4 separate regions of the Homo sapiens genome follow, and regions 1, 2 and 3 are each linked to region 4. Evidence: fine-mapped expression QTL. A gene starts in region 4. Each other region holds a variant in brackets. All regions are shown on one strand. Distances are from middle to middle. Region 1 has its middle 4.7 kb from the start of FAM187B. Region 2 has its middle 11 kb from the start of CD22. Region 3 overlaps MAG (myelin associated glycoprotein). Region 4 holds the start of USF2 (upstream transcription factor 2, c-fos interacting).

What was found. PIP is the estimated chance that this variant, and not a neighbour inherited with it, causes the effect.
Region 1: its variant is the best candidate, but not a certain one, in a credible set for the expression of USF2 in whole blood (TOPMed, PIP 0.83).
Region 2: its variant is the best candidate, but not a certain one, in a credible set for the expression of USF2 in lung (TOPMed, PIP 0.50).
Region 3: its variant is the best candidate, but not a certain one, in a credible set for the expression of USF2 in whole blood (INTERVAL, PIP 0.65).

Annotation. Positions count from the first base shown.
Region 1 is chr19:35,230,827-35,235,970 of GRCh38, forward strand. It overlaps the pseudogene FAM187B2P. Among named protein-coding and RNA genes, the nearest start is that of FAM187B, 4.7 kb to the left of the region's middle. The variant G/A (reference allele first, on the strand shown) is at 2,309.
Region 2 is chr19:35,315,767-35,320,910 of GRCh38, forward strand. No RefSeq gene overlaps it. Among named protein-coding and RNA genes, the nearest start is that of CD22, 11 kb to the right of the region's middle. RefSeq lists an enhancer at 3,279-3,458. The variant A/G (reference allele first, on the strand shown) is at 3,131.
Region 3 is chr19:35,303,985-35,309,128 of GRCh38, forward strand. The region is part of intron 7 of MAG (myelin associated glycoprotein); the gene reads left to right. Among named protein-coding and RNA genes, the nearest start is that of MAG, 14 kb to the left of the region's middle. RefSeq lists an enhancer at 746-1,633. The variant G/T (reference allele first, on the strand shown) is at 2,394.
Region 4 is chr19:35,266,765-35,271,908 of GRCh38, forward strand. It overlaps USF2 (upstream transcription factor 2, c-fos interacting), which reads left to right and starts at 2,198. Exons shown (of 10, transcript NM_003367.4): 1 at 2,198-2,399; 2 at 2,682-2,728; 3 at 2,817-2,935; 4 at 3,039-3,239; 5 at 3,683-3,833; 6 at 3,954-4,041; 7 at 4,319-4,377. The coding sequence starts at 2,338. LSR (lipolysis stimulated lipoprotein receptor) reads left to right here. Exons shown (of 10, transcript NM_205834.4): 8 at 72-203; 9 at 345-970; 10 at 1,060-1,200. The coding sequence ends at 1,095. RefSeq lists silencers at 979-1,058, 1,139-1,208, 1,309-1,458, 2,617-2,806, 2,947-3,266 and an enhancer at 3,554-4,293.

The sequences.
Region 1 (5,144 bases), 36 kb before region 4:
GTGATGGTGGGTGCCTGTAGTCCCAGCTACTTGGGAGGCTGAGGCAGGAGAATCATTTGAACCCAGGAGGCGAAGGTTGCAGTGAACTGAGATTGCGCCATTGCACTCCAGCCTGGGCAACAGAGTGAGACCCTGTCTCAAAAAAAAAACAAAAAACAAACAAACAAACAAAAACACCTAGGGCTAAATTATACTTCATAGTAAAATACTAAGAATAACACAAGTATTTCTGCCATCAACTTTTCCATTCAGCATTTTACTGGAGGTAAGATACAAGCAAAAAATTAGATATAAGGTCATATATTAAATATGATTTATATACCAGCAACAAAGAATTAAAAGATGAAACTTAAAAGATTACTATAGGATAGTATGAAAAAATTAAATACCTAGGAATAAATATAATAAAAGATATGTGAGTCCTCTACATTAATAACTTCACATTATTGGGAGAAATTAAAGAAAGACTAAACAATGGAAGTATTTGCCACATTCACGGATTGGAAGACTAAATATTGAATATATATTGATTTACCCCAAATTTATCTTTAGATTCAATAAAGTCCCAATTAAAAAAAAATAAGAGTTTTGGGGTGGAAACTACAAACCGATTCCAAAATTTGTATATAATGGGCCAAGAATAACCAAGACAATCTTGAAGAACAAAGTTGGGAAACACTACCACATATTGTGACTTATTGAAAGGTATAAAAAGACACTGTGGGCTGGGTGCAGTGGCTTGTGCCTGTAATCTCAGCACTTGGGAGGCCAAGGAGGGCAGAATCACTTGAGGTCAGGGGTTCAAAACCAGCCTGGCCAACCCCTTCTCTACTAAAAATATAAGAATTAGCCGGGCATGGTTGCGGATGCCTGCAATCCCAGCTACTTGGGAGGCTGAGGCAGGAGAATCGCTTGAATTTGGGAGATGGAGGTTGCAGTAAGCTGAGATTGCGCCATTGCACTTCAGCCTGGGCAACAGAGGGAGACTCCATCTCAAAAATAAATAAACAAATAAAAGGAAAAAAAAAAAAGAAAACCAAAGACACTGTGGCATTGGGACAAGGATGGATAGATAAATTGTATCCAGGGTCCAATCAGGAGACAGAAACATCAGTGTCTACATTGTCATGAGCCCATGGGCCTGAGTAGCTCGGTCTCTAGATTCTACATTTGGCCTCCCCCTGAATATCAGAAGCCTGTGCAGACAAGAACTAGGTCATTGCTGTGTCCCTAACATCACCTGCCCAGGGCACACTCAGAGGAAACACCAGGGAATTCTTCCTGCATGCGCATCTCAGCAAGCCAGTGAGGAGACCTTTTCCTTAGCAGAACCAACATGAAGGCTTATGGGCTGGGAGACGGAGCCCGGTTTTCTGTTGGAAGGTAACCCATGAGCCCAGGTGAACACAGAAAACAAAGTCTGGGTGAGGGTCAAGGGCAGGGCTACGGCCCTGGTCCTGTCACCTGTAGATGGAGGCCAAGGGGCAGGTGAGCCACCTGTTGTTCATCCACTTGCCAGGCTGGTAAAAATCAAAGATGAGGTATGGCTAGTGAATTTCCTTGACGGGGTTGCAGGGTACGTGGCAGGCTTCCACCTGCAGTTCGGGCCGCATGCGGCTGAATTGCATCTTCTCATCTCTCAGATACAGCTGGCAGGGCATAGGTTTTTCCACGGGCTCCTCAATGTAGCAGTACCCCAGGCGTCTGCACTCACCCAGTTCCCCACAGCGGTTACAGTCCTGCCGGGGGTCCCAGTGGGTAAAGATGAGTACCTTGCCATCCAGGATCAGGGTCTCATTCTGCAGGGACTTTTGGTCCAGGCTCTTGTGCGTAACATGAAGGGTGGTGACAACCTGGAAGTCGATCTCGTATTGTACCATGAGGGTATCATCATTGCCCTGGCAGCGATAGAGGCCAGTCTGGGAGGGCTGAGGGTTGGTCAATTGAAGGCTACCCCCAGGCAGTTTCCTTATGTCAGGCATTGAATTAAGCAGAGAAGGATCTTCCCCAAGAATGGAAGAGAAGTACCAGAGTGCCATGGGATGGTCACACTTCAGGACAGCATCACTGCCTGAGAGTAGGGCTCGCTGGCAAAGGTCCTTGTAGGCACAGCTGATTAACATCTAGGCTCACAGAGTGGGGCAAGAAAGGCTAAGCAGCCACAGGGTGTCCAGCATAGTGGACCAAGGCTGTAGAAGGAGGCTAGGAACTCCCTGGCCATTGTGAAGTCACTCACAAAACTCGAGGATCAGCCTAGGCAATGGAATGAAACTTGATCCACTGTGCTTCCAGGAGTACAATTCAGTTC[G/A]TGTCATCAAATGGCTTGTCATAGGTTGTAGGGTCGAAGGTCAAATATCCACATGAGCTAGGCAGGAAACAAAATGGGTGAGCTTAAATCAGAACAAACGAACTACAAAGGCAAATTATTGGCCCTCCACATACCCAATATATAATGATGGAATGGGACAAAATGACTTTATGACCATCAGAAAGTGGAAGAAGAGGCAGGGCCCAGTGGCTCACACCTGTAATCCCAGCACACTTTGGGAGGCTGAGGCCGGTGGATCACCTGAGGCCAGGAGTTCAAGACCAGCCTGACCAACATGGTGAAACCCCGTCTAACCCCGTCTCTATTAAAAATACAAAAATTAGCCAGGTGTGGTGGTGCATGCCTGTATTCCCAGCTGCTTGAGAGGCTGAGGCAGGAGAATCTCTTGAACCCGGGAGGCAGAGGTTGCAGTGAGCTGAGATCCACCACTGCACTCCAGCCTGGACAACAGAGAAAGACTCTGTCTCAAAAAAAAAAAAAGAGAAAGAAGAAAGAAAGAGAGAGAGAGAAAAAGAAAAGAAAGAGAGAGAGAGAAAGGGAAGACACACAGAAATCACTGCTCTGTACCACTTCTGCAATCCAGTGGGAAAACATTACAAGGACCCCCTATCTTGTAGATGGGAAAGATTCCTTAACTAGCACCGAAGCAGCTCCTTGTTGTGTGTGGGGAGGGTAGGGGGATTCCCAAATCATTGTTCTCTGTGGGTCATGTCTCACTCTCCAGGGAAATATCTCCTTTTCTCATATTCTCCTTGGCTACATCTGAAGATGTGCCCTCCTTGAGACAACAGCAGTTTACTCAGCCTGCTTTCTATCTCCCACAGTTTGGGACCTACGGTTCTTATAAGCCTCTAGTCAACTAAATATGTAAACAAACAAACAAACAAACAAACAAAAACACACACATAGCCGTAGTTCTGTTCGAGATGTTCTCAGGCTGGGCTCGGTGGCTCACGCCTGTAATCTCAGCACTTTGGGAGGCCAAGGTGGGAGGATTGCTTGAAGCCAGGAGTTCGAGACCAGCCTGGGCAACATGGTGAAACCCTGTCTCTCCTAAAAATACAAAAATTAGCCAGGTGTGGTGGTGGGCTCCTGTAATCCCAGCTACATAGCAGGCTGAGGCAGGAGAATTGCTTGAACCTGGGAGATGGAGGTTGCAGTGAGCCAAGATCACACCACTGCACTCCAGCCTGGGCAACAGCACAAGACTCTGTCTAAAAAAAAAAAAAAAAAAGATGCTCTTATCCTCTCTCTCTTTCTGTCTCTTTCTCATTTCAGGTACCTTAAACTCTATCAGCCATCCTTGGCGAGCTATATCTCTTAACTCTCTTTCATGGAGACATTTGTCCACCTGAAAGCGTTTTCTGGTAGTATCTTAATTCATTCAGAGAATTTTTAAACAATGGGTAATAATTATTTACCTAGGCTTATACTTTTGATTTTATCCTTGTCAAAAGCTGAATTCTAATTGGACTTTATCTCTCAAAGCCCTTCTCAATTTTTAGCTAACTTTGGCCAACTTATACTGCTAACATCTTATATTCCAGCAGCTTCCTTGAAAGCTACAAGTCCATTAAATACATTATCTGCCTTCCAGAGTATCTCAGGCAACAGCCTCCATCCTTCTGGTTTCAAATAAGTGTCTTAGTCCCAAAGGTATCTAAGCCAATGCTGTCTTTTTATTTTTGATTACCTCAGCACCCTACTCCTGATACTATTTTGGTATCAATCTAGATAAGTTATTTGCTACTATAATAAACTTCCAGCCAGGTGTGGTGGCTCACGCCTGTAATCCCAGCACTTTGGGAGGCTAAGGAGGGCAGATCACCTGAGGTCAGGAGTTTGAGACCAACCTAGCCAACCCTGTCTCTACTAAAAATACAAAAAATGACAAAACCCTGTCTTTACTAAAAATACACAAATTAGCCAGGTGTGGTGGCATGCACCTGAAGTCCCAGCTACTTGGGAGGCTAAGGCAGGAAGATCACTTGAACCCGGGAGGTGGATGTTGCAGTGAGCTGAGATCATGCCACTGCACTCCAGCCTGGGTGACAGAGCAAGACTTCATCTAAAAAAAAAAAAAAAAAAATTCCCCCCAAATCTCAACCACATAAAACAACTAAGGTTTACTTTTTACTCATTGTGCATTGGTATTGGAATCACTCAGGAATCCAGGGTGATGGCGCAACTGCCATCTCAAACATTTTCAGTTTCTTCCAAGGAGAAAGAAAGAGCTCTCTGTAAGATTTTGGGTCTACATTAAATGCTTTGCCCTTAAGTAACACATGTCATGTCGCTTGCTCACAAACCATTGGCTAGAAACAGCTACATGGCACCACCAATCCACCAAGCCAACAAAAGAAATTGAACTCTAGCTGGGCGCCGTGCCTCACGCCTGTAATCCCAGCACTTTGGGAGGCTGAGGCGGCGGATCACGAGGTCAGGAGATCGAGACCATCCTGGCTAACACCGTGAAACCCCATCTCTATTAAAGATACAAAAAAATTCGCCGGGCGTGGCGGTGTGCACCTGTAGTCCCAGCTGCTGGGGAGGCTGAGGCAGCAGAATGGCGTGAACCTGGGAGGCGGAGCTTGCAGTGAGCCGAGATCGCGCCACTGCACTCCAGCCTGGGCGACAGAGCAAGACTCCATCTCAAAAAAAAAAAAAAAAAAATGGAACTCTACTATTTCCAGGAATCTTTTGGCAAATGGCAGTAATGATTTCCATGGCTAATGTCTATTACAAGGGATTTTTCCTCTGGTGTTCTCCTTTATATCACAGAGTTAAAACCATTTCCAAAATCCTCACATCAGCT
Region 2 (5,144 bases), 49 kb after region 4:
CATGCAGGAGGAAAGGAGACGTGTGGGGGGCCGGGCTGTGGGAAGGGAAACCCTCTGTGGGGCCTGTCCAAGCTGGGAGGGTGCATGCCCTTTCTTCACGGAGCTCACAGTCTTGCAGGGACAAGGACATGAAAGAATCTCATGCACAATATCAAACTGCAACTGTGACACCGGCTTCCAAGGAGAAGCTCAGAGTTTTTACAGCAGGGGTCCCCAGTGCTATACTGCACACCCAGATACTGGTCTGTGGCCTGTTAGGGACTGGGCTGCACAGCAGGAGGCGAGCAGCCAGCGAGCAAGCATGACCACCTGAGTCCTGCCTCCTGTCAGATCAGCAGCGGCTTTAGATTCTCATAGCAGCACGATTCTTATCGTGAACTGTGCACGCAAAGGATCTAGGTTGCACACTCACAGATGGTGCCTGATGAACTGTCACTGTCTCCCATCACCCCCGGATGGGAACGTCTAGTTGCAGGGAAACAAGCTCAGGGCTCCCACTGATTCTACATGATGGTGAGTTGTATACTTACTTCATTATATATCACAATGTAATAATAATAGAAATAAAGTGCACAATAAATGTAATGTGCTTGAATCATCCCCAGCTCCCTCCCCACTCTCAGGCCCATGGAAAAATTGTCTTCCATGAAACCAATCCCTGGTGCCAAAAAGGTTGGGGACCGCTGTGTGACTTAAGGTCACAGGGGGCAGGGGAGGCTTCCCTATGGAAGGAAACTCACACATGTGTGAAGGCCCCAAGTGGGAACATGTTTAGCAAAATTCCAGGAGCTGAAGCAAGGCCAGAGAGGCATCGGATGGGGCTGGGGATACACAGGGGCCTCTCAGCAGCCGGGAGGGAAGCCTCTTCCAGATCCCCTGCATACATGCTCACCAGCCCTGCCCTGACACACCTGTCCCCTGACGACAGACTCTGGCTCCAGCAGGTCTGGCCTGGGAGGACTTCACCCAGAGGAGCAAAACATTGTCAATAACCAGGGATCGGGGAGTAACTCACGCTGCCCAAAGTGCAGCTTGAGGGCCCTGGGAGCCACTGTGACGCTACTGTGTATGCTTCATTTAGTATGCACCGGAACAACAGGAAACCAGAATGCCGCACCAGCTTCGGATGAGGCTAAGTCAAAATAAATAAATAAGAAAGAAATCAATCAACTGAACTGATTTTAAAAATGTATTAAATAAACATGTTGCAGGTGGCTCCTGAAGGTTGTAGGCAAACCTCTAAAGTTTGGGAAACAATGAGGGAATTTGACACAAAGACCATCCTTAGGAGGGACCGGCACTCAGCCATGGCGAACGTGTAGGACCGAGCCAGGTGCGGTGGCTCATGCCTGTAATCCCAGCACTTTGGGAGGCTGAGGCTGGTGGATGGCTTCAGCCCAGGAGTTTGAGACCAGCCTCAGCAACATAGCGAGACCCTGTCTCTACAAAAAATACAAAAATTAGGCAGGTATGGTGGCATGCGCCTGTAGTCCTACCTACTCGGGAGGCTGAGGTGGGAGGGATAGTTTGAGCCCAGGAAATGGAGTTTGCAGTGAGCCGAGATTGAACCATTGCACTCCAGCCTCAGCAACAGAGTGAGACCCTGTCTCAAAAAACGAACAAACAAACCAGTAGGACCTGAACTCAAGTTCACTCTCTCAGACTTTCCCCACCCAGCTCCTGGACCCCACCAGAATTCAACACATGCTCACTGAGCACCTCTGTGTGCCAGGCCTATGCTGGGCCCCAGGGTCACAGCAGTGCCCAAAAAGAATCACTCTGTGACCTCCCAGAGCTGACATTCTGCAGAAGAGACAGACAACGATCAGAAAGACAAGCAAACACATGACCGCACATCTGACAGTGAAGGAACTGCAGAGGGGTGCAAGGTCAGGCTGTGCTGGGTCAGGCTGCCATTTCAGAAAGAGAAGTCATTTGACTTGAGACCAGAAGGAAGTAAGGGAGGGAGCTCTGTGGGTTCCTGGGGAATGTGGGTCCAGGGAAGGCCAAAATCGAGTGCAAAGGCCCCTGGCGAGAATGTACTTGTTACCTTCATGGAACAAGAAGGAAAGAAGCATGCTTGAGTGGAGTGATGGAGCCAGAGTGGTTGCCCAAGGAAGCTCGATTACACAGGGCCTTGTAGGCCACAGGCAGGACTGGGGCTTGTTTGTTTGTTTCTTTGTTTGTTTGTTTTGAGGCAGAGTATCGCTCTGTTGCCCAAGGAAGCTCGATTACACAGGGCCTTGTAGGCCACAGGCAGGACTGGGGCTTGTTTGTTTGTTTCTTTGTTTGTTTGTTTTGAGGCAGAGTCTCACTCTGTTGCCCATGCTGGAGTGCAGTGGCACAATCTCAGCTCACTGCAGCCTCTGCCTCCCGGGTTCAAGCAATTTTCCTGCCTCAGCCTCCTGAGTAGCTGGGATTACAAGCATGTACCACCACGCCTGTCTAATTTTTATATTTTTAGTAGAGACGGGGTTTCACCATGTTGACCAGGTTGCTCTTAAACTTCTGACCTCAGGTGATCCACCCGCCTCAGCCTCCCAAAGTGCTGGGAATACAGGCGTGAGCCATCCCGCCCAGCAATGGAATTTAATCCTAGGTTTTTTTTTTTTTTTTTTTTTTGAGATGGAGTCTCGCTCTGTCACCAAGGCTAGAGTGCAGTGGCATGATCTCGGCTCATTACAACCTCCGCCTCCCGAGTTCAGGTGATTCTCCTGCCTCAGCCTCCCAAGTAGCTGGGATTACAGGCACGCACCACCATGCCCAACTAATTTTTAATAGACACGGAGTTTCACCATGTTGGCCGGGCTGGTCTCGAACTGCTGACCTCAAGTTATCTGCCTGCCTCTGCCTGCCAAAGTGCTGGGATTACAAGTGTGAACCACTGTGCCCAGCCAGGACTTGGGCTTTCAAAGAGCGCGTTGAGAAGCCGCTGGAGAAGTGAGTTCGGAGGGGTGTGATGGCAGGCTTGAGGCTTCAGAGGCCCACTGGCAGCTGCGTGGACAGTGAGCACAGGCTATCAGTGGAGGCAGGGACAGGGCTTGGGAGGCCCTGGCCATTGTCCAAGAGAGAGGAAGTGGAGATGGGGAGAGGGGTGGGGTCAGGACCCATTTTGGAGGAGGAAGTGGTG[A/G]GACTCACTTGAAGAGTCAAAGGTGACTCCAGCAGCTTCCTTAAGAGGTTGAAGAAAGCAGGAGGGGCAGGTTCAGTGGAGAACGCAAGAGTGATCTACTCCGGCCGAGTTCAGGCCCAGGGAGGCCCTCAGGGACAGGGAAGGCAGATGGCACCCCCTCCCTGGGAAATGCCAAGCCGAGGAAGAGTCAGAACACATGACACAGTGACTCAGAGAGATGGGGGCAGACGCTGAGATGAGGGTTGGCCAGGCAGGAAGGAAGGTGAGAAGGTCTCATGGCCTCACGTGCCAGTAGGGCTGGGCCACCACGTGTGGGAGGGAGGACACCCAGGCACCAGGCCATGGTCATGACACGGGTCTCTTTGTCCCTCCCGGTCTGCCAACCTCCTGAGTCACTCCTGACGGAGATGACTGATCCATCCCTGGCCCGCCTCCCACCCTGTCCCTGGGACAGTGCCTGGGGCAGGCAGCTCCATTATCCTCCTTGATGAAAGAGCTCCCAGCCAGCACTGGCCACTCCAGAGCCTCCTCCCCAGGTGGGTGATCATGCAGGGCTGGGCTCTTGCGACTGGCCGGGGGTAGAGATGCACCGCACTGCTGAGAAGTGCTTTCTAGGAGTTCAAGACCAGCCTGGGCAACACAGCAGACATTGTATGTAGAAAAAAAAATGTTTAAAAATAAGCTGGGCACAGTAGTGCATGCCTGTCATCCCAGCTACTCAAGAGGCTGAAGCAGGAGGACCACTTGAGCCCAGGAGTTTGAATCTGCAGTGAGCTATGAGTGCACCACTGCATGCCAGCCTGGGCAACAGAGTAAGACTCAGTCACTAAAAAAGAAAAAAAAAAAGATCGAATGTGGTGCTCATGCCTGTAATCCCAGCACTTTGGGAGGCCAAGGCGGGCAGATCATCTAAGGTCAGGAGTTTAAGACCAGCCTGGCCAGCATGGCAAAACCCCATCTCTACTAAAAATACAAAAATTAGCCAGGCGTGGTGGTACGCGCCTGTAGTCCCAGCTACTCAGAAGGCTAAGGCAGGAGAATTGCTTGAACCTGGGAGGCGGAGGCTGCAGTGAGCTGAGATCGCACCATTGCACTCCAGCCTGGACAACAGAGTGAGACTTGGTCTCAGAAAAAAAAAAAAAAAAAAAAAAAAGAAAGAAAAGAAAAAGGGGGAGAAAAAAAGGAGAAGTAGGCGAGCCTCTTTCTTTCCCCACTCTTCTCGCTCTCAACTCCAGGCTGCTCCTTAAACAGGAGGTGACAACCTCAACCTCGCAAATTAAAAAAAAAAATCTTTTAATTTTGAAATAATTATCACAGGAAGTTGCAAAGATAGAACAGAGAAGTCTGGCAGCAGCTGAGCCAAAGGCCCCTTCCCACCCTAGAGCTCGATCTGCCTGGGGAGCGGGAAGGAAATGACAGTTTAGTCCCAAAGGGCCTCTCTGTGAAGCTCAGGCTAGGGCTGAGTAGCCAGAGGTGGGTGAATTAATGTCTGCAGGGAGTGCTGGGTCAGCAGCGTAAGTGACAATGTCTGGAATAATGACAGCTCACTTTTACAGAGAGCCCGTTCCATAGCAGCCACCATGCAAAGTGCTGTAGGGGCTGGGGACCTGTCACAGCATAGCCCTGAAGTCATAACAGCAATCTTATTATCACCCTGGGAGGGAAACTGAGGTGATGTCACAACAAACACGTGGCAGACCTGGGACTGGAACCCGGGTCTTTTTACCACATGCTTGTCATGGGATGTGCGAGTTGCTGAGTGTGTCCTGTGTGTGCTGTCACCAGCCCGGTGAGGAAGGCACTATCATTGTTCCCGTCTTACCATCCTGGGCAGAGGTTGGGGGGTGAGGGGGACATAGCCAGGCAGGGAGTAGCCACCCAGGGCTCACAGGGACTCTGTTAGTTGCCTGCTTTCACTGCTTCCCTGGTAAAGGGGTGACAGTCAAGTCACCAAAAAAGGAGACCAACGACCTGTTTGAAGGAACAGGGAGGAAGAGTGAAAGCGCCGAGGCTG
Region 3 (5,144 bases), 37 kb after region 4:
AATGGCCCCCACCACACAAGTTTGCCAGAAGGTTCGATGACATTCAACATGCAAAGAATTCAAAGCAGTGTCTGCTACACAGTACATGCTCTGTGCTGTGTACATGGCGACAATCAGTACATGGCAGATACAGGTTAGTCCTCGGGGGCAACCTCTCGTGGCAAAGCCGTCCCTCTCCTGCTGACCTATAATCTTCAGGCACTTTCCCTCCTGGTTCTGTTCCCTAGCGGGGCTGATGTGATCCTGGCGCGGGGCTGCGTGGTCCCCTGCTCCCTCCAACTGTGCGTGCTATCCTGGGCCAGCTTCCCCCTCTGGTTGTCCCCTGATCCCTGTTACACCCCACACCAGTGATTCTTCAGTTTAAGAGTCAGAGAGAGGAGCCGATGGGAGTACTTGAACAAGCCTGCAGCACCAACTCACATACATTTTCCGGTGGGGTGCAGATCTCTCCTTTATAGTAAGAGCAGCAGGCAGCAAATGCGCGTTAGGGGCCTGCCCTGGGCCAGACCTTGAATCCTCTACAGCTGTTTTCTGGTTCAGTTCTTATTTTTATTATTATTATTATTTTTTTTTTGAGACTGAGTCTCGCTCTGTCACCCAGGCCAGAGTGCAGTGGCACGATCTTGGCTCACTGCAACCTCTGCCTCCCAGATTCAAGCGATTCTCCTGCCTCAGCCTCCCAACTAGCTGGGATTACAGGCATGCGTCACCATGCCCAGCTAATTTTTTATTTTTAGTAGAGACGGGGTTTCTCCATGTTGCCCAGGCTGTTCTCCAACTCCTAGTCTCAAGTGATCCACCCGCCTCGGCCTCCCAAAGTGCTGGGATTACAGGTGTGAGCCACCATGCCCAGCCTATCTGGCTCATTTTCAATTCTAGGGTCACCCTGTGAAACAGGGGTGTGTTATAATTATCCCCTTTACCAAGGAGAAAACTCAAGGGCGGAATTCCCTGAGGCCAGGCAGCTATAAAAGTGGGTCCGAGCCCGATAATTCCAGACTCCTGTCTGCCCCAGCTGTTAAACCTCTGGCTGCCTCACCTCCCTCACAGCTCTTAGCACTCTAGGACTCAATCCGGCTTCTCTTGAAAACGAACACGCAGGCAGATGTGGAGTGTGCAGGCCTCACCTGCTAGACTTGAGGGGAGCAGTGGCCCTGTCCCCTGCCCCACCTGCCAGCTCCCTACTCTTCACCCAGGCCTGTGTCAAAGTGCTTGCCCTTGGAGAGTGCGACCCTCAGGCCCCCTCCCTCTCCACACAGTCAATGTTCCCTGGCACCAGGTCTCCAATGTTCACTGACAGTGGTGGTGACCCTTGAGCAGGGCCTTCTGTCTTACCTGCCAACCCCAGAGCCCTGAACGGCACGGGGCATGCAGGAAGTGTGCAACCTTACCGAGTGCCTGAGATGTCTAGGGAACTAGCTTGAGTACGTTGTACGCATTGACCTATTTTGTTCTTACAACCATGTGATTGAGGGGAGGGTACCATTCTTCAACCCAGTTTAATACAAGGAAACAGAAGTTTGACTGGCATCCAGTCCCAACAGGGCTGAACAGACCTGGGCTAGAATCCCAGCTCTGTCCCCATCCTCCTGCCTGAGCTCAGGCGAGTGACTTCAGCTTTGCAACCCTTAGCAAGGGTTCATAACAGTATCTTACCACAAAGATGGCTGTGAGAACTAAGAGAATTAGGCTGGGCGTGGTGGCCCACACCTGTAGTCCCAGCACTTTGGGAGGCTGAGACAGTTGGATCACTTGAGGCCAGGAGTTCGAGACCAGCCTGACCAACCTGACAAAACCCCATCTCTACTAAAAATACAAAAATTAGCCAGGCGTGATGGCGCACACCTGCAGTTCCAGCTACTCAGGAGGCTGAGGCAGGAGAATCGCTTGAGCCCGGGGGGTGGAGGTTGCAGTGAGCTGAGATGGAGCCAGTGCACTCCAGCCTGGATGACAGAGCAAGACTGTCCCAGCCCCCCACTCCAGCCTGGATGACAGAGCAAGACTGTCCCACCCCCCCACTCCAGCCTGGATGACAGAGCAAGACTGTCCCATCCCCCCACTCCAGCCTGGATGACAGAGCAAGACTGTCCCACCCCCCTACTCCAGCCTGGATGACAGAGCAAGACTGTCCCATCCCCCCACTCCAGCCTGGATGACAGAGCAAGACTGTCCCACCCCCACACTCCAGCCTGGATGACAGAGCAAGACTGTCCCACCCCCCCACTCCCCCACAAAAAAGAAGAACTAAGAGAACAATACTGAGTGTTCATAGTGCTACATACTCTGTGGATATTGGATGTCATCATCTTTCTCACTGATTTTTCCTTTGGACTCCAGGTTAAATATTTGTTGTGTGTTTTGCTGCTGAGGTTTTGCTCATGTGACCTCTCTGC[G/T]GGAATGGTTCTGTCTATCCACCCATGAGTACTTGGGTGGGATGTTACGTATTTTTAATTTTAATTTTTTATTTTTTTGAGACAGGGTCTTGCTCTGTTGCCCAGGCTGGAATGCAGTGGTTTGATCATCGCTCACTGCAGCCTCAACCTCCTGGGCTCAACTGATTCTCACACTTCAGCCTCCTGAGTAGCTGGGACTACAGGCACACATCACCATGCCCAGTTAATGTTTTAATTTTTTGTAGAGATGGGGTCTTGCTCTGTTGCCCAGGCTGGTCTCAAACTCCTGGGCTCAAGTGATCCTCCTGCCTTGGCCTCCCAAAGTGCTGGAATGACAGGTGTGAGCCACTGCACCCGGCTGGGATGTTAAGTGTTTACAACACACTTGCGCGCCTATCTTCGGAGTCCCGTAGCCCCTTGTGAGTTACTGACTGTAACCCCCTGGTTTGCACAGATGAGAACTCCATCCTAGAGGCCCAGGAGCCTGAGTGGCCTCACCCAGCCAGTAGATGGCAGAGCTGGGATTCAAGCCAAATCCATCCCACCACAAACTCCTCATTCTTTGTACCTTTGTCTTACAGGTTTGTCTAGAGTCCCATAACAGTTTCCGCAGCTTCACAGGTTGTCTGAAAAGATACTAAGCACGTGCACCGGCAGGGTGTCGGCGTTCCGCCGACATCCAGGTCGAACACTTTGTCACCAGAGCACCAGTGGGGCTGTCTTGAGTGGAAGTGCTTTGAAAAAGTTTTATGTCTGTCGGTTCAGGTTCGCTGTTATTAATGTACTCCGTGGCGTGTTAGCTGGTTAACGCTATAGCAAGCATATTGCAGCTCTGCCCGAACAGGACTTTTTATTCAGTAGACTTAGAGATGTTTGCACAGAGGTTCCCATTCCTGCCGTGAATCCGTGTGCCCGTGTGACTCCCAGGTCCACCACCGTTACCGGCACATTCTTTTTGCTAGCAATTGAAAATAGGTGGGGTAGGTGAGCCAAGGGTCTCTTGCCTGTGTGTAAGTGGGTTTTGGTGAGAACTCACTGAGAACCAGTGCTCAGTCTAGAGCAAGCCAAGGAGGGTGCTGGACTCTCAGGCCAAGAAAGAGAACACAGTTTAAAAAGCAGCATTCTGTGCTGTAATACAATTGCGTATTTTGGTACAAAAATTAGCCAGGCATGGTGGCACGCACGTGTAGTCCCAGCTACTCAAGAGGCTGAGGCAGGACAATCACTTGAACCTGGGAGGCAGAGGTTGCAGTGAGCAGAGATCGTGCCACTGCACTCCAGCCTGGGCGACAGAGAGACTCCGTCTCAAAAATCATAGTAATAACAATAATAATAATAATAATTTCCTGTTTTGGAAAATGAAAGAAAAAACCTACCAGTACTATTTTTGTAATCCAGTGGCAGCAAAGCAAAGCTCAACCAAGTGACTTTGGGTGGAGGGTGGTGTTTGGTGCTAGTGGCAGGAGGGAATCTCATGGGTGAGGAAGGGCCGGGGTTCAAGGCGGCTTTAGGGGAGGAAGTGGGGGGCATCTGCAGCGCAGACTGAAAGGAAGGAGCACAGCCTGGAAGCCAGAAAGGAGGGGATAGTCTAAGCCTGTGTGAGCCCCAAGGGTCTGGGGAGGCCGGGGGCTGGGAGAGTTCCATGGTTCCTCCCTTCTACGTGTGGGGCCCAGAGTGGAGAAGGAGCAAGCCCCTGTCTTGATGGAAACAGGAGGCCCCTTATGTAAGTGTGTGATGCAGGGAGGGTGAGTGCTGGGGAGGAGAACTGAGTGAGGCAGGGAGTGAATGATACGTGGAGCGAGGTGCAGCTTCCCTGGGTGGTCAGAGAAGGAGACGCCGCATGGGTAGAGGCCAGTTTGGAGCGAGGGAGGGCGTTCCACAGGCAACTGATGGAAGTGTTCCAAGTTGAGGGAGAAACGTACAGACCCTGGAGTGGGAGAAAGCTCCACGATTTTCAGACACAGCAAGGAACCGGTGTGGCTGGAAAGGACTAAGCCAGGGGGAGAGAAGGAGAGAGTGTGTGGTCAGGCAGGGCCTGAGGGGCCTTGTAGATGAAAGACTTTGTATTTTGGGCTGGGCACAGTGGCTTGCGCCTTATAATCCCAGCACTTTGGGAGGCCAAGGCAGGAGGATTGCTTGAGCTCAGGAGTTCAAGACCAGCATGGGGAACATAGCAAGACCCTGTCTCTACAAAAACAAACAAAAACCCTCCAGTAACTATCATGAGTATGACAGATTTACCGTCCTCTGCAATTCTGAACATAAAGCTTTAAAATCAAAAGGCTTTTTGCAAATTTGGCACCACCCTGATTTGACAGCAAAATCTCGCCTAAAGAACACAAGGCTGTTTGTAATCTATACTGATTTCATTTAGGGTGAATATTCGTACTTTTTGCTGTATACATTACATTGAACTATGTGAAATTTTTTCTGCATGTCAAAAATGGTCAAATGTGGCTGGGCGCAGTGGCTTATGCCTGTAATCCCAGCACTTTGGGAGGCTGAGGCGGGAGGATCACTAGAGGCCAAGAGTGCAAATGAGCTATAGTACTGCCACTGCACTTCAGCCTGGGCGACAGGGCCAGACCCTGTCTCTAAACGATAAAAAATAAAGGATTTGTATTTTAGGTGAACCACGGAGCAACAGAAGGAGGGTTTTGAGCAGAGAGTGCCATGATCTGATTTATGTATTACAAGGTGAATGAGGTTAGAGAGAGTGTAAGAGCCAGGGCCCAGGAGAAACGGCCCGTC
Region 4 (5,144 bases):
ATGTGCCTGTAAGGGAGAGGGGTGGGCCAGGATCCATCCTCCCAAACCGACCACCACCCCCCTGTCCCTAGAAGTCCGCAGTGGCTACAGGATTCAGGCCAGCCAGCAGGACGACTCCATGCGGGTCCTGTACTACATGGAGAAGGAGCTGGCCAACTTCGACCCTTCTCGACCTGGCCCCCCCAGTGGCCGTGTGGAGCGGGGTAAGCAGGAGCCTTGGGGTCTGAGGGCTTTTAAGGTGGGGGGGTGAAACATGTCTCCCTGATACCTGCCGCAGGGACTCTTGGTGCAAACCCTGGACCCCGGGCTCCTCCAGCAGTCAGTGACACCCCCCTTCCCTGCAGCCATGAGTGAAGTCACCTCCCTCCACGAGGACGACTGGCGATCTCGGCCTTCCCGGGGCCCTGCCCTCACCCCGATCCGGGATGAGGAGTGGGGTGGCCACTCCCCCCGGAGTCCCAGGGGATGGGACCAGGAGCCCGCCAGGGAGCAGGCAGGCGGGGGCTGGCGGGCCAGGCGGCCCCGGGCCCGCTCCGTGGACGCCCTGGACGACCTCACCCCGCCGAGCACCGCCGAGTCAGGGAGCAGGTCTCCCACGAGTAATGGTGGGAGAAGCCGGGCCTACATGCCCCCGCGGAGCCGCAGCCGGGACGACCTCTATGACCAAGACGACTCGAGGGACTTCCCACGCTCCCGGGACCCCCACTACGACGACTTCAGGTCTCGGGAGCGCCCTCCTGCCGACCCCAGGTCCCACCACCACCGTACCCGGGACCCTCGGGACAACGGCTCCAGGTCCGGGGACCTCCCCTATGATGGGCGGCTACTGGAGGAGGCTGTGAGGAAGAAGGGGTCGGAGGAGAGGAGGAGACCCCACAAGGAGGAGGAGGAAGAGGCCTACTACCCGCCCGCGCCGCCCCCGTACTCGGAGACCGACTCGCAGGCGTCCCGAGAGCGCAGGCTCAAGAAGGTGAGGGCCGCCCTCCCTGGCGTCCAGACCGTCCCTGGGCCCCCAGCCGGTCCCCGCGGCTCATACCCTTCTTTCTTTCTCCCTTGCAGAACTTGGCCCTGAGTCGGGAAAGTTTAGTCGTCTGATCTGACGTTTTCTACGTAGCTTTTGTATTTTTTTTTTTAATTTGAAGGAACACTGATGAAGCCCTGCCATACCCCTCCCGAGTCTAATAAAACGTATAATCACAAGCTCTGGAGAGAACCATTTGTTCGGCCGCGCGGGGCGGGGGACCGGGGCTGCTCCCGTATGCGTCTGTAAAGCGCCGCGTCCCGGGGGCACCGGAGTCCGGGGCCGGGAGGAAGAGACCCAGCCTGGCCCGGCCCGCGCCCGCGCCGCCGGCCGGAGAACGTGCCCCGCGCAGCCGCCGCCCGCCTGCGTGCGCGCCCCGGCCCCGCCCAGGCGTGCGCATGCGCCCCGGCCCTCCGCCTTCGCGCACCGCAGGCTGGCCGTCCGGGACGCGCGCGCGCTCCTCTCCCCTTCCAGCCCATCCCCCCCAGCCCCCCACCGACCTACTTTACTGTCTCCAAACTCGGGCAGCCCACCTGGCCCCCGACGACCCCAGCCCCTGCACCGGGTACCCCGACGTTCCATCCAGACCCGCGTTTCACCAGGGCGGCGCGCGGCGACCTCGCGCCCCGCGGAGCCCCGGGCTCGCGCGCGCCCGCCCGCCCCCGGAGACAGACCAGCGCGCGCGCCCCGGGCCGCCTCCCCCCAGCGCGCGTCCGCCCCGGGGCTCGCGCCGCCGCCGCCGCCGCCGCCGCGCGCGCGCAGCTCAAGTAAAGGAGGAAAAAAAAAAGGGGGAAAAATAGAAAGCGGCGGCGGCTGCAGCAGCGATCCGCCGCCGGACTGGGCCAAGCCGGGCGGCGGCCGCGCGAGCCGGCGATCCAGGGCACTGGCGGCGGCCAGCCAGGGCGGGCCGTGTTCAAAAAAAAAAGTCGCGGCGGCGGCGGCTGCTCAGGGAAGGAGGCCTGAGGGCCGCGTGCAGCGGGCGGGCAGCTGGGTGGGCTGGGGGCGGCCGCGCGGCGTCCCGGAGCCTCGGGCCGCCCGGAGCCGGCGGGCGGGCGGAGGCGGAGGCGGCGGCGGCTGCAGCGGCTGCAGGAGCGGCGGCGGCTGCGGCGGCGGCGGCGGCATCTCCTCCTCACATGACCCCACTGTTTGTCCCCGTGATCAGCGCGAGCGGCTCCCGTATCTCCTCCGTCCCCTCCTGCCGCGCGGCGTGAGCGCCGGGCTCGGGGCCCCCCCGGCCGCCCGCCCCCTCCCCTCCCTCCCTCCCCTCCCCTCCCCTCCCCCCCGGGCCCCGCGCCCCCCCCGCCCCCGCCCCCCCCATGGACATGCTGGACCCGGGTCTGGATCCCGCTGCCTCGGCCACCGCTGCTGCCGCCGCCAGGTAAGATCCCCGGCCCGGCCGTGCCCCCGCGCCCCGGCCCCGGCCCCGGCCCCGCGGCCTGCAGGCCGGGGCCGCCATGATCCCGAGCGGCCGCGGGCCCGGCTCAAAATGGAGGCCGCCGGCGCGGGGGGGACCTGGCGCCTCCCGCCCCCGGCCCCCGGCCTCGGCGGCGCCCCCGGCCTCAGGCGCGGCCGGGTGGGACTGGGGCCCTGCAGCTGGGCGCGGGGGCGGGGGCGCGGGCGCGGGCCGCGCTGACCCTGCTCCCTCCTGTGCCCCTGGCAGCCACGACAAGGGACCCGAGGCGGAGGAGGGCGTCGAGCTGCAGGAAGGTGAGTGCTTGCCGGGCCGGCCGCGCCCGGGGAGGGCTGGGGGCGCTCGGCGCGGCCCTGACCGTGCCCCGACCCTCCTCGGCCCCAGGCGGGGACGGCCCAGGAGCGGAGGAGCAGACAGCGGTGGCCATCACCAGCGTCCAGCAGGCGGCGTTCGGCGACCACAACATCCAGTACCAGTTCCGCACAGAGACAAATGGAGGACAGGTGAGCGGCGGGCCGCGAGGGCGAACGGGCGGGCGGGCGGGCGCGCCGGGAAGGCTCGGACCTGGCCCCAGCGCCGGCCTCGCCGCTCTGCCGCCCCCTGCAGGTGACATACCGCGTAGTCCAGGTGACTGATGGTCAGCTGGACGGCCAGGGCGACACAGCTGGCGCCGTCAGCGTCGTGTCCACCGCTGCCTTCGCGGGGGGGCAGCAGGCTGTGACCCAGGTGGGTGTGGACGGGGCAGCCCAGCGCCCGGGCCCCGCCGCTGCCTCTGTGCCCCCAGGTCCTGCAGCGCCCTTCCCGCTGGTAGGTGCCCTGCCACCCCTGGGTGGGGGGGGGAGGGAGTGGAGAGGGGACACTGGCTCTGCTCTTGGGGAGCCCCGGGGGTGGGGCAGGTGTCGCCCAGCGGATGCTGCCTTCAGGCCTCAGGCTGCATGGGGCCAGATCCCTGTTGTGCACCGTGAAACCTGGGGACAGTGCTCTTGGAATTTTTTTTTCCCGCAAAATGGGAATGATGTGTCTTAAGAGGAAAGTTTCTTAGAGTGCGAAACGGATTTGCTCAGCAAGTGATCGCTGACCTCCCGCCATGTTCCAGGGCTGTTTGAAACACAGGACAGAATGCTACACGCAGAAGGAGTCCCCACTCCTGTTAATTGCAGAGAATGCAGTAAACCCCAAGCACAGCAATGAGGGGACGGGATGGAGGAACAGAGAAAGCTAAGGGTAGCCTCTGCCCTCCTACTCCCCAGGCTGTGATCCAAAATCCCTTCAGCAATGGTGGCAGTCCGGCGGCCGAGGCTGTCAGCGGGGAGGCACGATTTGCCTATTTCCCAGCGTCCAGTGTGGGAGATACTACGGCTGTGTCCGTACAGACCACAGACCAGAGCTTGCAGGCTGGAGGTGAGGAGTAGAAGTCAGATTGGCAGGTGGGGGAGGCAACGGGCCCAGCAGGGAGGGAAGCCCCCCCAGCCAGTTCTGACTTCACCCTGCCTTGCCACTAACCCCCCACTCTCCCTGCAGGCCAGTTCTACGTCATGATGACGCCCCAGGATGTGCTTCAGACAGGAACACAGAGGACGATCGCCCCCCGGACACACCCTTACTCTCCGTATGTGCAGGGGACACCTGGAGGGCCTGGTGTTGAAATGGAAGGAAGAGGGGTTTCTGGAGTAGAAGCTGGGCAGTTAGCATGAAGTGGGCACATGGTGTAATGTTTTTTTTCTTTGCCTGTTTCTGCTGCTCTAGTGCACATAAAGTATCATGTCTTTTGTTTTTGCAGATGGATTTACCTTGCAAAGATAATTTTCAAATCTAATACTTAGCAGATGCTTGGGCAAACAGCTCTGCGATAATACATGCCCCCTTTTTTTTTCCTCCTCTTGTAGAAAAATTGATGGAACCAGAACACCCCGAGATGAGAGGAGAAGAGCCCAGCACAACGAAGGTGAGGACAAGGTGTGGCTCCGGGTCCCCCTGACCACCACCCTCACAGGCTCAGCCAGCCCTGGAGTGTGGAGTGACAGAGAGAGAAGCCACTCCTGGGCAGGCCACAAGTGCTCCAGAGGGCTTTGCTGGACGCTGTAAAGGTAGAAAGTGAGCAACGAGGGGAGAGTACAGTGTCAGAAGTAGAGGGACAGGGAGTGTGAATTGGAACTGGCCATTTGTTGACCCGGCTGGTGATCTTGAATTCATGGCCCACATCTAAGATGGTGGACTTCACACTCCCATACGGATTGCCTGCCCCACTTGAAAAATGGGGCTGACCGGGCTCACGTGGGCTGACCTTTCCACGTGGCAGCTGTCATGCTCACATCCCGCACTCCCATGCCTGCCTGGCCTCCAGAAGTAGGTCTGTTCCCCCAGGGAGCACATCTGAGGGAGAAACTGCATGAAGTTCTGCCTCTGGCTACCTAAGGCCGGAGCATCCTGCCCTTTCCAGAAACACCAGGTCTCACCTCAGGTCATTTGGCCTTCAGCACTGTCCCGCCCCGCCTGTCAGTAGCCACTGCAGTGGGCACAGCACTGTGCAAGTGCCAGGAGAGTGCTTACACCCAAACAACCATCATTCAACAAATATTTACTGCCCGTGGGTTCTGGGCTGAGCGGCACAGGCCCTGTGCCAGGTCTGGAGTCTGGCCTGGAGCGTCAGGGAGGCTCAAAGGCCTGAGGGCTTATGTCTCATGGGTCTCATGGGACATTGATGGGGGGTGG